Regions from separate parts of the Homo sapiens genome. Here region 2 is linked to region 1. Evidence: fine-mapped expression QTL. A gene starts in region 1. The other region holds a variant in brackets. All regions are shown on one strand. Distances are between the middles of the regions.

The links. PIP is the estimated chance that this variant, and not a neighbour inherited with it, causes the effect. A credible set is the group of variants that fine-mapping cannot tell apart.
Region 2: its variant is the best candidate, but not a certain one, in a credible set for the expression of GIGYF1 in whole blood (TOPMed, PIP 0.84).

Annotation. Positions count from the first base shown.
Region 1 is chr7:100,691,572-100,695,943 of GRCh38, reverse strand. GIGYF1 (GRB10 interacting GYF protein 1) reads left to right here and starts at 1,694. Exons shown (of 27, transcript NM_001375765.1): 1 at 1,694-1,834. RefSeq lists an enhancer at 1-588, silencers at 1,276-1,435, 1,876-1,975, 2,146-2,265, 4,028-4,197 and a cis regulatory region at 1,127-2,620.
Region 2 is chr7:100,741,267-100,745,638 of GRCh38, reverse strand. All of the region lies in intron 7 of ZAN (zonadhesin), which reads right to left. Among named protein-coding and RNA genes, the nearest start is that of ZAN, 9.9 kb to the right of the region's middle. RefSeq lists an enhancer at 314-363. The variant G/A (reference allele first, on the strand shown) is at 2,462.

The sequences.
Region 1 (4,372 bases):
AAAAGTTCAGCGAGTCATTCTTGAAAAGTCCTTTTTTTAAACAAAGGGGGTTTCAGTCACCTCACATTTGCATAGCAGTTTCTCTCTTGTCAAAGCCTTTCACATTCACTTATTTTAATTCTTACAGCACTCAAGGAAGAGTGTGGAGTTGGGGGTCGGGGGTTGGGTGCAGAGCAGTGTTAACATCCTTCTGTAAGAGAAACGGAGGCTTTTGAGAGGCCAGGCGTGGCGGCTCATGCCTGTCATCCCGGCACCTTGGAAGGAGGATCCATTTGGGTCCAGGAGTTCCCGGCACTTTGGAAGGAGGATCATTTGGGTCCAGGAGTTCAAGACCAGCCTGGGCAACATGGGGGAAACCCTGTCTCTACAAAAAAAAAAAAAAAAAAAAAAAAAAAGCTGGGCGTGGTGGTGTGCCCTGGTAGTCCTAGCTACTCAGGGTGCTTGAGGCAGGAGGATTGCTTGAGCCCAGGAGGCGCAGGATGCAGTTAACCGTGATCGCGCCACTGCACTCCAGCCTGGGCGACAGAGCAAGACTCTGTCTTGGAAAACAAACAAACAACAAATACAATAAATTAAAAAAATTAGTTGGGTGTGGTGGCACACAGCTGTAGTCCCAGCTACTCAAGAGGCTGTGGCAGGAGGATCCCTTGAGACCAGGAGTTCAAGACCAGCCTGGGCAATGTTATGAGACACGCCACCCGCCCAGTCTTTACAGAGAATAAAAAAGTTATCTGGGTGTGATGGTGCACACCTATAGTCCCAACAATTCAGGAGGCTGAGATGGGAGGATCGCTTGAGACACGGGAGTTGGAGGCTGCCGTAAGCCGAGATCGGGCTAGTACACTGCAGCTGGGGCAACAGAGTGAGACCCTGCTTCAAAAAAATAAATAAATAGGGGCCGGGCGCGGTGGCTCACGCCTGTAATCCCAGCACTTTGGGAGGGCGAGACAGGCGGATCACTTGAGTGGTCAGGAGTTCTAGACCAGCCTGGCCAACAAAAATAAGCCAAACGTGGTGGTGTGTGCTTGTAATCTCAGCTACTCGGGAGGCCAAGGCATGAGAATCACTTGAATCCGGGAGGCGGAGGCTGCAGTGAGCCGAGATCGCGCCACTGGACTGCAACCTGGGGGACAGAGCAACACTCTGTCTCAATAATTAAATAAATAATTAAAAAAATAAAGAGGCTCCTGAGAGTCAACTTATTTGCCTGAGCCACTTATTTCACACATCCCAGGACGCCTGATGAAGGGTTCTGGATTTTATTGTCTCCTGTCATCCAGGCGGGCTTCCTGGAGGAAACCGGACCGCCAGGGAGGCCGCGGCCTCGGTCCCAGAGGTCGCGCGTCGCGGGGCCGGGGGAGGTGGGGGAGAGGAGGCCGCTCTGGGGCCGATCCCGCCCGCAGCTGGGGGCCCCCGTCACGTGACCAGCCGGGCGCCCAGGTCACGTGTCGGGGCGGGGAGGGGGGGGGCTGTCGGGGGCGACGGGCGTCCGGGCAGTGGCGCGCGCGGCACGCGAGCAGCGCACGAGGAGAGGTGGCGCGGGCCGGAGCCGCGGAGGGAGGCGGCGGCGGCGGCGGCGGCGGCGGCGGCGGCGGCGGCGGCGGCGGCGGCGGCGGCGGCGGCGGCGGCGGTGGAAGGGGCGGCCCCGCGGCCCCGCGTCCGCGTCACGTGGTGCGAGGCGGGCAGCCATCTTGCTACAAACACAAACACAGAGGAGCGGCCGCCGCGGGAGCGCCAGCGCCCCCTCCCCCGCTGCTAGCCGCCGTCGCCGTCCCCGGCCCCCGCCCGCCGCGCGCCGCCCACGCCCCGGGACCGGACCCTCGCGCCGCCCGCGGTAAGCGCCCAGTGGCCCCGCGGCCCCCGGCCCGCAGCCCAGCCCCGGGGCAGGCCCGCCCCCGACGCCGCGGCGGCCGCGCCGAGCCCGCGAGCTAGAGAAGCGCCGGAGCCAGCGCGCGGGCCGCCAGCGAGGACCCTCCCCCGTCTCCTCCCCGAGGCCGCCGCAGCCCGGTGCGTCCTCCCGCTCTCCCGCCCGCTCCGGCCCATCCCCGCCGCCGGGACCCTCCCCCAGAGCCGGCCAGCCTCGGGGAGGCCCCGGGAGGCCGGCGCCCGGCTTAGGGGGCGACCGCTCGCCCCCCTCGCACCTGGCGCCCCTCCCTGAAGGGCACGCCGTCCTCCCGGGCCGGCGCGCTGCCTTCCACCCCCGCGCTCCTAACGGTCGCCCCCGGGCCCCTGCCAAGCCCTGCCCTGGGCCGCCTGGGGGCCCCCGACCCTAGCGTCCTAGGGTGGCCGGGCCCCGCGCTTCCCGGAGTTCTCCCCAGCGCGCCTTTGGGTTCCCCTCGGAACGAGCTGGGCCTTGCGGTTCCCCAGGTCCAAGCGTTCCACGACTTTGGCCAACATGGAAGCCTTGCCCTCCACCCAGGCACCTCGCCTGGGTCCTCCTCACCTCTGTTTCCTTTCGCTCCGGCGATCTTAGTGCTGGGTCATTGGGGTCTCCTTCTTCCCAGTTGCTCGGCCGCGGGAAATACCTTCCTTAGCAGAGACTGCTTGTCCTCCCCGTCCCAGGCCAGGCCCTTCTCAGCTCATGCCCCTCCGTGCAGCAGCTCCCTGGCCACAGCTCTCACACTTTGCCTTAAAAAAAAAAAAAAACAAAAAAATTTCCGAGTAACTTTTTAAAAGCCCCTCGTCTCTCTTCTCTGTTATACAGTCATTACTCGCATTCCCGGTCAGACTCCAGGTCTGTTGCATCCTAGTGCTAGGAACTAGGAGATGCTACATAAAGACTTGTTAGCTGGATTGGATTTTTTTTTTCCAGCCACCCAAGCCTTACTTCCCTCCTGCCTCTCAAAGTGTCGTTCTGGAAGATCGTCAGCTTTCCCACCCTCTTGTGCACTGCCTCTTCGAGTCTATATAGAAGTTTCAATTTAGAACCCCGCCAACCCCTCGCCTTTGGCATGGAAACACCATCGGTGGTACCAGTAAGGGTCTCTCCTTTGCTGCCGACATGGGGGATTTGGGGTTCTTTCTCCTTCCCATCTTTCCTGTGCCCTTTGCAGACCTAGGCTAGCCACCCTCCACCAGGCTAGCCAGCTCCAATCTGATTTTCTTAGATTGTAGGTCTTGGTCCCCCAGCGGTCTGTCGTGCCATTGGGAAGGATTTGAGGGTAGACCTGGCCTTGGTGTCCCTGCCATTGCCTGGGGACCAGGGGCCCTGAGGGTCCCACGTGGTGGTTAGTCAAGTGGACCATGTGCTTAAACTTCTGGACTAGCTTTTTCTGCTGTTGGACACATCAGTCTTGTGTTCGTGATCTGATGCGTTAGCCCTAACTTTTACATCTGCTATTGGAATTTGGGAATTAAAGAAAAATAGCCCACTTTAGAGGAGAGAAGATGAGAGGAGGAGGCTAGATGAAGGATGTTGAAAGTCTAACAAATGTAAAATGGCTTCAAACTCACAGAATAATGCTTGCGAGTTTGGGATGGTTACTGCTACCGTGCGCACCTCCAGTCTTGCATAGTGTCAAGGATGTCGGGGCACGCTGTCGGAGCAGCTTCCTCCTTCTTTTCCCTGGCTGGAGCCCAAGGCTGGGCAAGTGGGCAAAAGGGATCACAGGAGGTAAAGAGTGAAAATCCTTTGAAAACTGTTAACTTGTAGACAATTGCCAAGCGGTGGTGTGATTTGCTGGGATGGCTCAGAGAGGAGAGAGCTGGGATAACCGACCAGCCGCGAAGAATGCGGGTTTGCATCTCTTTTTTAAGCCTCAGCGTCCTCACCCTACCACGCTTGGAGAATCTCCATCCTGAGAAAGGGCCAGGTCCCCTCCAGCAGGCCTGGGGCTGGGCGGTTGTTCCAGTGTTGAGGAATTGGGGACTGTGCTTCTGTTTAAGTGGCTCTGTTCTGTGCCAAGGCACAGTGCTCTGTGTTGGAGCTAATTTTAGGGGTGATGGAGTGAGGAGATAATGTTCTTAGCTGAATGTGCACTGGGACCGCCTGTTCTCTGTCTTTTCTTTCTCTCTTGAGTTCTGAGCCCCAGAGAGCAGGCTCCCTTTCCCGCGCGCCCTGGCGCCTACTGGAGCACCCGGGCCCAGCGTGTCCTCGCCCCTTGTCTCCGGCAGGGGGCAGTCTTTCAAAAGCATTGATTCAGATGCTGGGGGAGTGAGGGTAGACAGGCCCGAGAAAGAGAAGGGGTGGGGAAGGGGCGAGGAGCCGAAGTAGGCCGAGGCTTGAGGGCAGGGCCAGGGCGGGGGACAGGCTGGAAGGGGCCTGTGAGAAGGAGACCCTGAGCTGAGAAAGCTCAGCCGGGTAAGCTGAGACGGGCAGGTGGCAGTACCCCAGCCCCCGCCACCTCCTGCTCTTACCTTCATTGGACAGGGA
Region 2 (4,372 bases), 50 kb before region 1:
GCTGGGATTACAGGCTTGAGCCACTACACCCGATTGCCTCTTCCTTTTCTTTACCCGCTGGACATAACCTATTCACGCAAACTGGCGAGAGATACAGCGGCTCTGACACAGAGGAGCAAGAGGCAAACCCCCTCTCACCCAACACCACCTCGGCCCCCAGCTCAGACAGCCAATCAGCGTGGACCTCGCTAGGTGACGCAACTGGTAGCGAAAAAGAAAATGTAAGCGGCTGCCACTCGTGGGGAGCGCGCTCGCGTGCGTGCTCACGCCCGAGTCCAAGGGAGTCTTGCCTGGCGCGCGCTCACTCCTGCCGAAGGTGGGATCCTGAGCGGCGGCGAAGAGGCTGGAATGGCGGGAATGGGCGGGAGGAAGGAGAAGAAAGGAAACAACCGGGAAGGAAGAGGGAAGGGAAAGGAAAGGAAGTGGGAAAATGATGAAAGAGAAATCAAGGACACGGGCTGGCGCGGTGGCTCACGCCTGTAATCCCAGCACTTTGGGAGACCGAGGCGGGCGGATCACCTGAGGTCAGGGGTTCTAGACCAGCTTGGCCAACATGGCGAAATCCCGTCTCTACTAAAAGTACAAAAATTAGCCGGGCGTGGTGGCGGGCATCTGTAATCCCAGCTACTCGGGAGGCTGAGGCAGGAGAATCGCTTAAACCCGGGAGGCGGAGGTTGCAGTGAGCTGAGATCGCGTCACCGCACTCCAGCCTGGGCGACAGAGCGAGACTGTCTCAAAAAACAAACAAACAACAACAACAAAAAAAAAACCAAGGAGACCTATGAGAAACAGAAGAGGAGAAATGGGAGAAAAAGAAGTGAAAGGTGAAGAAAATATAAGGAAGCGAGCAAGATGGAAAAGGAAAGGGAAAGAAAGGAAAAATAAAAAGCCAACCAGCATTTACTGAAGCTGCTGGGCGCGGTACACGGTGCTAAATGCTGAGGGGTTGCAGAGAGGGCTGGTCGGCTTTCAGTGAAGGTGGGGCCAGGGCTTCTTAAGGCCTTATTTATTTATGTACGTATTTATTTATTTATTTTTATTGAGATGGAGTCTCACTCTGTTGCCCAGGCTGGAGTGCAGTGGCGCTATCTCGGCTCACTGCAACCTCCGCCTCCCAGGTTCAAACAATTCTCCTGCCTCAGCCTCCCGAGTGTTGGGATTACAGGTGCACACCACCAAGCCCAGCTAATTTTTTGTATTTTTAGTAGAGACGGGTTTCGCTATGTTGGCCAGGCTGGTCTCGGACTCCTGACCTCTGGTGATCCACCTGCCTCCGCCTCCCAAAGTGCTGGGATTACAGGCATGAGCCACCACGCCTGGCCAGGGCCCTTCTAGAAAACAAAGTTTAGGCAGCAGGAAAGATCAGAGACAGGAGTGCAGGAGTCCAAGTGGACACTGATGGAGTGGAGAGAGGAAAAGATGGGGAAAAACAGAAAAGAAAATACGGCAGAGGCAGGAGGATCACTTGAGGCCAGGAGTCCGAGACCAGCCTGGGCAACATAGCAAGACCCCATCTTTACAAATAAAGAAAATAAAATAAAGTGTGGAAATGGTAAAGTGGAAGGGAGGAAATGGATTGAGAAAGGATAAGTATTAAGGGAAAAGAAGAACAAAGAGATATAGGCTGGGCGTGGCAGCTCACACCTGTACTTCAAGCACTTTGGGAGGCCGAAGCAGGAAGATGGCTTGAGGCCCAGAGTTTGAGACCAGCCTGGGCAATGTAGCAAGACCCCATCTCTATTTTTATTTATTTATTTATTTTGAGACACAATCTCACTCTGTCGCCCAGGCTGGAGTGCAGTAGTGCGATCACAGCTCACTGCCACCTCCACCTCCCAGGCTCAATCAGTCCTCCCACGTCAGCCTCCCGAGTATCTGGGACTACAGGTGTGTGCCACCACACTGGGCTAATTTTTGTATTTTTTGTAGAGACAAGATCTCACTATATGTTCCAGGCTGGTCTTGAACTCGTGGCCTCAAGTGATCTGCCCACCTCGGCCTCCCAAAGTGCTGGGATTACAGGCATGAGCTACTGCACCTGGCCTAGTTTTTAAAAACATTTTTTTAAATTCAAAAATAAGAATTATAAACTCAGGAAATTAGGGAGCAGAACCCTCTATGCTTGACCTACAGTGCTTGGCTCAGTGAGGGGTTGAAATGTGGGCTGTGTGAGAAGATTAAGAGAGAAAGTGAATGTTGTGTGAGAGAGAAAAGGAAGAAGTCAACAGTAGAAAGAGAAAGAAGCTCAGCTGAGTGCACAGGGAGGTGGTGGAAAGAAGCTAGGGATAGACTTGGGTGCATAGAAAGAAAGAATATCAGCCAGGCATGGTGGCTTACGCTTGTAATCCCAGCATTTTGGGAGGCCAAGTGGGTGGATCACGAGGTCAGAAGATCGAGACCACCCTGACCAACATGGTGAAACCCCATCTCTACTAAAAATACAAAAAATTAACTGGGCATG[G/A]TGACGCACACCTGTAATCCCAGCTACTCGGGAGGCTGAGGCAGGAGAATCGCTTGAACCCGGAAGGCAGAGGTTGCAGTGAGCTGAGATCGTGCCATTGCACTCCAGCCTGGCAACAGCAAGATTCTGTCTCAAAAAAAAAAAAAGAAAGAAAAAGAAAGAGTGTCGCCTGGATTTTTGCAAAAGCCTCCTAAACAGCCTCTCTGCATCGACCCTTGCCTGTTCTCCTCAGTGGATTCTCAACACAAAAAAAATCCTTAAAAAATAAGTCAGATCGTCCCCGTCCCCCTCCCCCTCCCTCTCCCTCGTCTCCGTCTCCGTCTCCCTCTCCCCACGGTCTCCCTCTCATGCGGAGCCGAAGCTGGACTGTACTGCTGCCATCTCGGCTCACTGCAACCTCCCTGCCTGATTCTCCTGCCTCAGCCTGCCGAGTGCCTGCGATTGCAGGCACGCGCCGCCACGCCTGACTGGTTTTGGTGGAGACGGGGTTTCGCTGTGTTGGCCGGGCGGGTCTCCAGCCCCTAACCGCGAGTGATCCGCCAACCTCGGCCTCCCGAGGTGCCGGGATTGCAGACGGAGTCTCGTTCACTCAGTGCTCAATGGTGCCCAGGCTGGAGTGCAGTGGCGTGATCTCGGCTCACTACAACCTCCACCTCCCAGCCGCCTGCCTTGGCCTCCCAAAGTGCCGAGATTGCAGCCTCTGCCCGGCCGCCACCCCGTCTGGGAAGTGAGGAGTGTCTCTGCCTGGCCGCCCATCGTCTGGGATGTGAGGAGCCCCTCTGCCCGGCCGCCCAGTCTGGGAAGTGAGGAGCGTCTCCGCCCGGCCGCCATCCCATCTAGGAAGTGAGGAGCGCCTCTTCCCAGCCGCCATCACATCTAGGAAGTGAGGAGCGTCTCTGCCCGGCCGCCCATCGTCTGAGATGTGGGGAGCACCTCTGCCCCACCGCCCCATCTGGGATGTGAGGAGCGCTTCTGCCCGGCCGAGACCCCGTCTGGGAGGTGAGGAGCGTCTCTGCCCGGCCGCCCCGTCTGAGAAGTGAGGAGACCCTCTGCCTGGCAACCACCCCGTCTGAGAAGTGAGGAGCCCCTCCGCCCGGCAGCTGCCCCGTCTGAGAAGTGAGGAGCCTCTCCGCCCAGCAGCCACCCCATCTGGGAAGTGAGGAGCATCTCCGCCCGGCAGCCACCCCGTCCGGGAGGGAGGTGAGGGGGGGTCAGCCCCCCGCCCGGCCAGCCGCCCCATCCGGGAGGGAGGTGGGGGGTCAGCCCCCCGCCCGGCCAGCCGTGCCATCCGGGAGGGAGGTGGGGGGGTCAGCCCCCCGCCCGGCCAGCCGCCCGGTCCGGGAGGTGAGGGGCGCCTCTGCCCGGCCGCCCCTACTGGGAAGTGAGGAGCCCCTCTGCCCGGCCAGCCGCCCCGTCCGGGAGGGAGGTGGGGGGGTCAGCCCTCCGCCCGGCCAGCCGCCCCGTCTGGGAGGTGAGGGGCGCCTCTGCCCGGCCGCCCCTACTGGGAAGAGAGGAGCCCCTCTGCCCGGCCAGCCGCCCCGTCCGGGAGGGAGGTGGGGGGGTCGGCCCCCCGCCCGGCCAGCCGCCCCGTCCGGGAGGGAGGTGGGGGTGTCGGCCCCCCGCCCGGCCAGCCGCCCCGTCCGGGAGGGAGGTGGGGGGGGTCAGCCCCCCTGCCCGGCCAGCCGCCCCATCCGGGAGGTGAGGGGCGCCTCTGCCCGGCCACCCCTACTGGGAAGTGAGGAGCCCCTCTGCCCGGCCAGCCGCCCCGTCCGCGAGGGAGGTGGGGGGGTCAGCCCCCCGCCCGGCCAGCCGCCCCGTCCGGGAGGGAGGTGGGGGGGGTCAGCCCCCCTGCCCGGCCAGCCGCCCCGTCCGGGAGGGAGGTGGGGGGGGTCAGCCCCCCTGCCCGGCCAG